Linked DNA regions of Homo sapiens. The protein of the gene in region 1 interacts with the protein of each later gene in a pairwise test. Each region holds a gene or a part of one and is shown on either strand. Other genes may lie near its edges.

Region 1 (3,961 bases):
CATTTCAGCTTGTGGGAAGAATCTTTTTAATTGGATAAATTCATGTTCTGTATGAAATGAGATGAAATTGAGAAAGCCAATGATTTTTTTTTTTTTTGCAGTATCTGAATCTGACAAAACATTCAAAACTTATAAGTAGGTACAACTTATTTGAAAGGTTTAATCTGGTTAAAAAAAAATACGTGTGGGCTGGGCACGGTGTGGCTCATGCCTGTAATCCCAGCACTTTGGGAGGCTGAGGCAGGTGGATCACATGAGGTCAGGAGTTCAAGACCAACCTGGCCAACATGGTGAAACTTTGTCTCTACTGAAAACACAAAAATTAGCCGGGCATGGTGGCAGGCGCCTGTAATCCCAGCTACACAGGAGGCTGAGGCAGGAGAATTGCTTGAACCTGGGAAGCGGAGGTTGTGGCGAGCCAAGATCGCACCACTACATTCCAAACTAAGGCACAAAGACAGCACCTGTGAAAATATCTGGGCTAAAATATTTATGCAATTCCATATGCAAAGAATTGGACTTGAGAACAGCCTCTGCCTGGCAGAATTTGCTGAGAGCTTATCACTCAGAACCTGCACAGGGAACATTTTCTCAATATATTATGGTTCAAGAGAAGAGTCAATTGAAGGTACTAATTTAAATTTGTTAATTGTAAAATTTGTGGAAAAAAGATTTCAGGCAATTATATGGAAAAATTAAAAATAACAAGACCCCACTGAAGAAAATACATTCTTGTGAAAAATGCCAGTGACAGGGTATCAGTCAGGTACAAGAAACTGTAGCATGTGAATATACAACAAGAACAATTATTTTGCTTATCTTATTTTTAAATGTTCAGTTGATTAACATAAACATGTTTTCTTTTGCTTTAATATTCATAGGTGTATGCATATATATTTAAAGACTTTTTTGAAAATAGTTTTTATCTAGAACTACTTTATAACACCATCAATATAATATAACCATTTTGTTGGATTTTTTCCCCTTCCTTCCTTCCTTCCCTTCATTCCCTCCTTCTCTCCTTCCCTCCCTACCCTCCTTCCCTCCTTCCTTCCTTCCTTCCTCCATCCCTCCCTTCCTCCCTCCCTTCTTCCCTCCCTCCCATCCTGCTTTCCTTCCTTCCTTCCTTCCCTTCCTTCTTTCCTTCCTTCCTTCTTTCCTCTCTCTTTCTACCTGTAAATACTAATTTTTGGGGGAAATAATTTTTGACTATTGGGGTGCCCCGGCAGTGTGCACACACATGGCCTGACCATCCCTCTCCTAGCTATCTCTGATGATGGCCAGGAAGCTGAGGTCTATGGTGACAGAGGCTGGCAGGTGGGAATCTGTAGAATTCCCCGGCGATTGGTTGGGATTTCTCAGGGAGAAAGGAGGCGAGGTCCTGACCTGTGGTGGAGGGGCTGGGGCATTGAGAGTTTGAGAAGAGATGGGAGGGTGTTGAGCACTGATATGGTTTGGCTGTGTCCCCACCCAAATCTCATCTTGAGTTGTAGCTCCCATAATTCTCTCGTGTTGTGTGAGGGACTTGGTGGGAGATAATTGAATCATGGGGATGGAGAACAAAGCCAAGCCAATATCTTGACTTTAGCTCAGCGAGACTGAGTTTGAACTCCTGATCTCCAGAACTGTAAGATAATAACTTGCATCGTTTTAAGCCACTCACTTTGTGATAATTAATTATAGCAGCCTTAGGAAACCAGCACGGGGGTGAGGCTGCACCCTGCCCAGGAAGCCAGAGACGACCAGCTACGCAGGGACTTTAGCTCGAACCTGATTAGGTCAGTGGACACCGCCCCCATCCCCAGGACGGGGAGGTGGCTGGGGCCACTGCAGCCACAGCATGTGTCTGCTCACATGGGGCTTATTTTTAAAGGGATTGTCCTCACCTGCTGCTGTCTGTGTTTATAAAGTTGGCTAGAGAGGAGAAATCTTCCTTTGCCAGTTTTCAGCTTTAGCTCTGATATTTGCCTGGAACATAGTAGGTGCTCAATAAACAATATCTCTGGATATTGTTAGTAATATGTGACCCTATTTGAAGAACTCAGAAGGGGCACTGGGCAAGTCTACAAGAGATGGCAATTCTGTAATTCCTGTGTGGTATTTTCTGAATTCTGCACATTTTAACCTAGGCTATGAGACAGTGTGACTTTCTTCAACAAATTAGTTAATTCTTCAAATTAACTCCAATTTCAACAGCATGGTGATGTTAAAGGCATTGGAAATTCAGCCACAGATGTTAAAGACCATCAGCACGGTCACATAGTAAGATGCTACTTTCAAGCCACGAATAACCCAACCAGTTATTGGTCTTATGAAATCTTGTAAGCCATCCCAGAGAGACTAATTTAATTTTTATGATTCAGAATTTGCAGGCTGTAACTGGTCAGTCCATGCGAACTCTGGTGGCTGCATTCAGCCCTGACATGTTTCACCTGACTTTGATATAAGGAGCTACTGGAACCTTCCTACGAGTTCTAAAACCTTTCCCTCCTCCTCCTGTTCTGGAAAAGCAATTAAGACCCAAACTAGGCATGAAATAAAAGTCTCTTAAATTGATTTAGAATTATTTTTAAAAAGTACCCTCACAGAAGTGGAAAATTTTGCCAATAGGTAGGTGTAAAAGGAAGTTTTTTGTTTTTCTAAGAGACACAGATTTCCTCTCATATTGTACTCTCATAAAAGAAAAAAAAAAGGTGGTCATTTACTTACTCAGGCAGAAAATGAAGGCGTTCACAACTGTAGTTGGGTTTTCTGATAGTGAGAGCTGCTTTTGGAGGAGTTTTCTCTTCTGGGAAGTGCTGTGGAGATGTGGTTGCTTTAAATTATATAACCTCCGCTCCAGTGATGTCATTGTGGGGATTGCCGCAAAAGTGAGTCTTTCGGGACTCACTCCAAGTGGATTTGGAAGGAAAAATCCACTCTCATTTCACTTTGCACTTTAGGGATGATAAGAGATTATTCAGCTACCATCTCCCCCTTTACTTTGGTACCATCTGCAGAGGTCTGCAATCCTGCCCAAGACCTGTATGTTGGCAAACACGCCCTAAAAACATGTTTTGACATCGCCAACTTGCCCCAAGGCTCGCAAAGTGTCAGTGAACATTGAGGGATGGCTTTTGGCCCCTTCACTATTGGCTTCTGAATGTCTGGGGCTCTGCAGCAGCTTTTGTGGGAGCCACTTCGAATGGCCTCTTTTGAATTTTGGTCATGAAAGATACATCGCCAAGAATCCATCAGAGTGGACCCATCACACAAACAGAGAGCTAGGAAAACGTTTGACTCATGCAATGTTCAGAGTTGAGTAAGACCAGATACATTTTTTCCTAATCCTCCTTGGCGTCTCTCAAATTATGTCTGCATGGGTCAAGTTGAACTACTCAAGACCTCATGTTTCAGACAGTAAGATATTTTTGGCTTTGAGAATCAGGTGACAAGATTCTCCAACTGAAGGCCCCTTACCTGTCAACTTACAAATTAAGATCTTTCCAGGCCACCCCCTACACGTAGGAGAACTCATTCATGCCAGAATTCAGGACTTCGAGTCTGACTTCTGGAAAGGTGACCCTCCAAATGTTTGGAGCAGAAGGTGTCACCTCTGTCTTTAGAATCTTGCCTTTTGCTTGTGTTCCCTTTTTCTGCTAGTGACATCTCAGCGGGAGCCAACTGCACTTCAAGTTTTCCTGCTGTCTTCTCCTGTTGCTGAAGACCTTAAAACTGTGGAAGTAGGTGGAACAAATAGCATTCTGAGGCTCAGTAGCGGATGTACATTTCAGGGAAGAAGCTGGAATTTGCCTTAGAGGATAGGATGGTCCCCTCCTATCAGGAGAGACCTCCTGGGTGGGATTTTTAATAAAAAAAAATTGTCAACAGGCAAGCATCTTCCATTACTCCCGGGATAGATCTGAACCGGAGGAAGGCTCCAAATCTTAGCCTTTCCTGTTACTTAGTAATGTAGGCGGGG
Region 2 (3,500 bases), on another chromosome or scaffold:
AATCTACTCATCTGACAAAGGGCTAATATCCAGAATCTACAAAGAACTTAAACAAATTTACAAGAACAAATCGAACAACCCCATCAAAAAGTGGGCGAAGGATATGAACAGACACTTCTCAAAAGAAGACATTTATGCAGCCAAAAGACACATGGAAAAAATGCTCATCACTGGCCATCAGAGAAATGCAAATCAAAACCACAATGAGATATCATCTCACACCAGTTAGAATGGCGATAATTAAAAAGTCAGGAAACAACAGGTGCTGCAGAGGATGTGGAGAAATAGGAACACTTTTACACTGTTGGTGGGACTGTAAACTAGTTCAACCATTGTGGAAGTCAGTGTGGCGATTCCTCAGGGATCTAGAACTAGAAATACCATTTGACCCAGCCATCCCATTACTGGGTATATACCCAAAGGACTATAAATCATGCTGCTATAAAGACACATGCACACATATGTTTATTGCGGCACTATTCACAATACCAAAGACTTGGAACCAACCCAAATGCCCATCAATGATAGACTGGATTAAGAAAATGTGGCACATATTCACCATGGAATACTATGCAGCCATAAAAAAGGATGAGTTCATGTCCTTTGTAGGGACATGAATGAAGCTGGAAACCATTCTCAGGAAACTATCACAAGGACAAAAAAACCAAACACTGCATGTTCTCACTTATAGGTGGAAACTGAACAATGAGAACACTTGGACACAGGAAGGGGAACATCACACACCAGGGCCTGTCATGGGGTCGGGGGAGTGGGGAGGGATAGCATTAGGAGATACATCTAATGTAAATGATGAGTTAATGGGTGCAGCACACCAACATGGCACATGTATACATACGTAACAAACCTGCACGTTGTGCACACGTACCCTAGAACTTGAATAAAAAAAAAAATCACATCAGAGACGCTTTCTAGGCTGCAGATGTAACATGCCCAAAAGAGGAGCTGCATCATAAGCCATTAAATTTCAATACAGCGATCAGCAAGACTTAGGAAACGGACCTTTCACTCCATTCTGTGCCTATCCAAGGCAACCATCAGGGCTTACCACTTTCCTCACCAAAAACAGACACTTCACACAAAGATTTCTACGTGATGTTTTCCAATAGCTTTATTCATAATAGTCAAACATGAAAACTACCTGAAGGAACATCAACTAGCAAATGGATAAACAAATTGTGGTACATCATCAAAGTGGTACACTACCCAGCAATACAAAGCAGCAAATAACTGATACACACAGCAGAGATGAATCACAAAACTACGCTGAGTAAGCAAAGCCAGACACAAAAGACATCACACACTTTAGGAGGCTGAGGCAGGCAGATCACCTGAGATCAGGAGTTCGTGACCAGCCTGACCAATATGGTGAAACCCTGTCACCACTAAAAATACAAAAATTAGCCAGGCTTGGTGGCATGTGCCTGTAGTCCCAGCTACTCGGGAGGCTGAGGCAGGAGAATCGCTAGAACCCAGGAGGTGGAGGTTGCAGTGAGCCAAGATCGCACCACTGCACTCCAGTCTGGGAGAGAGAGAGAGACTCCGTCTCAAAAAAAAAAAAAAAAGGACATCACCCTATCACCCTAAATAACACCATTTATACAAAGCTTTAGGGAAGTCCAACCTAGTCAACAGTGACAGAAACAGATCAGTCCCCAGGGGTGGGTGCTGATAGAACAGGGATGCAAAGAAGCCTTTAAGGGTGATGAAATATTCTAGATCTCAACTGCCAGTATGGTTACACAGGCACATATGATACATTTGACTGTATACTTACAGTATGGGCATTTTATTGGTGGTAAACCACAAAAAGTTGATATTTAAAAAAAAACCAACATTTTCTATTACATTGGGCTCATTCCATTTCAGGATGTGCTTACAAGTACAACATGGGTTGCTTCTGAGAGGAAACTGCGTAGACAGGGACAGGCGTGGGAAGACATCAAAATGTTTACCCTTCTGTACATTTAAACATCTGAACTGTAAGGCTATGTTAGTTAATTTTTAAATAAATAAAATTTTAAATGAAGGAAAAAATTCTAAAAACATGTTCTTCATTGGTGAAATGAGTGAGATAGTATTATCTGAGGCCCCTCATCACCACAAAACTATGGGACTGTTACCCAATCTACTTCAGTTGTGGAAACCCTGCTTTTTGAGACAGGCACTCTATGTGGCCTCTATTTTACCAAACTCCTCTGAGTTCTCATGAATATCATTTTTTAGCATTTTTTCATATTTCAGTATTTTTCATAAAATATACCATAGATAAGAATGCATATGTGTGTGTGTGTGCCTGCACGTCTCGGATTCGAGAATGTCTTTTATTTTCTTTGTAGTTTTATCCCCTATGTGTGTATCCCTAACCAATCCTGTTCAGTTCCTGCACCATTTAAAACTTAATTGAATCATTCAGCATATATTACTTTGTGCATCTTTTGACCAAAATTACATTTGTAAAATTCATCCCTGTTGTTGCTAAAGCTGTATTTTCATTGTTATATGGTATCACAATTTATAATAAATAAATGAACCACAGTGTACTTATCCATTAAATTATTTGTGGATACTTCTACAAAGTATTTTTTTTTTTGGTCCCTGTTGCCTACAGAAAAAACAAATCCAAACACACAACATAGCATCTGAGGCAACTACTGCCCCCACAAACCACCTAGCCAACCTTATCTCCCACTACATTTTCTACCAGCCCATGCTGCCATTGCATCTGTTTACTGTGTAGTGGTTGAAATATTAGGTACACCTTCAAGATGCTATTGTGTTCATTGTATTCCTCAGGGTTAGAATGCTCTTGATCATCTACTAGATCTCCCAAATCATTCTTATCCACTGAGGTTTAAGCATGATCTCCTTATTAAGAACCCCACAATCTCTTCCATCCACAATACCACGTTCCCCAAAACCATATCAAAATGAATTATCCTTTCCTGAATCTTCCACCACACTTAATTCATGCAACTTTTAGTTATACCCATTGGTTACGGCTGTGTCACAATTTTTGCCCAAAATCTTGCAGATAATGGGCAGGTAATAAATGTTGAAGCTTTTGAGTCAAATTCAGACTCCTAAAACCCACTGCTAATGCCAGGTGCTAAATCATTCAAAAATATATCTTTAAAAAGTTTACTTCCACAAAAATGAAATACATCAATTAAAGTGAAAACAACATCCCATTGCTTAAGACAGATTTGGTTGGGTTCCCCACAGTTTTAAAATTGATCTTTTTTTCTCATAGAAAATACAGTGCTTTAGAGTTCCCAAGACACAGAAGGTTAGAGTATCACATAATTTAAGATCATTTGAGAAGAAATACATTATTTAAAGAAAACGTAATGTCCTTGAAAATCATTTTAACCCCCAGAGCAACAAATAAAAGGGAAAAAAAAACAAAATTTTAATGACATTAATAAATGGGTCATAAATTCCAATGAATTATAATGCAAAAGCAACAAGTAATTCTGAAC

Evidence for each region. The genes of interacting proteins can lie anywhere in the genome.
Region 2: the proteins of BDKRB1 (region 1) and RETREG1 interact in a two-hybrid assay, tested with the Homo sapiens proteins (one large-scale study listed by BioGRID and IntAct).

Annotation. Positions count from the first base shown.
Region 1 is NC_000014.9:96,255,049-96,259,009, reverse strand, and holds the start of BDKRB1 (B1 bradykinin receptor), read right to left. Parts: upstream 2,801-3,961; 5' UTR 2,710-2,800; intron 1-2,709. UniProt on the Homo sapiens protein: This is a receptor for bradykinin. Could be a factor in chronic pain and inflammation.
Region 2 is NC_000005.10:16,610,498-16,613,997, forward strand, and holds part of RETREG1 (reticulophagy regulator 1), read right to left. Parts: intron 1-3,500. UniProt on the Homo sapiens protein: Endoplasmic reticulum (ER)-anchored autophagy regulator which mediates ER delivery into lysosomes through sequestration into autophagosomes.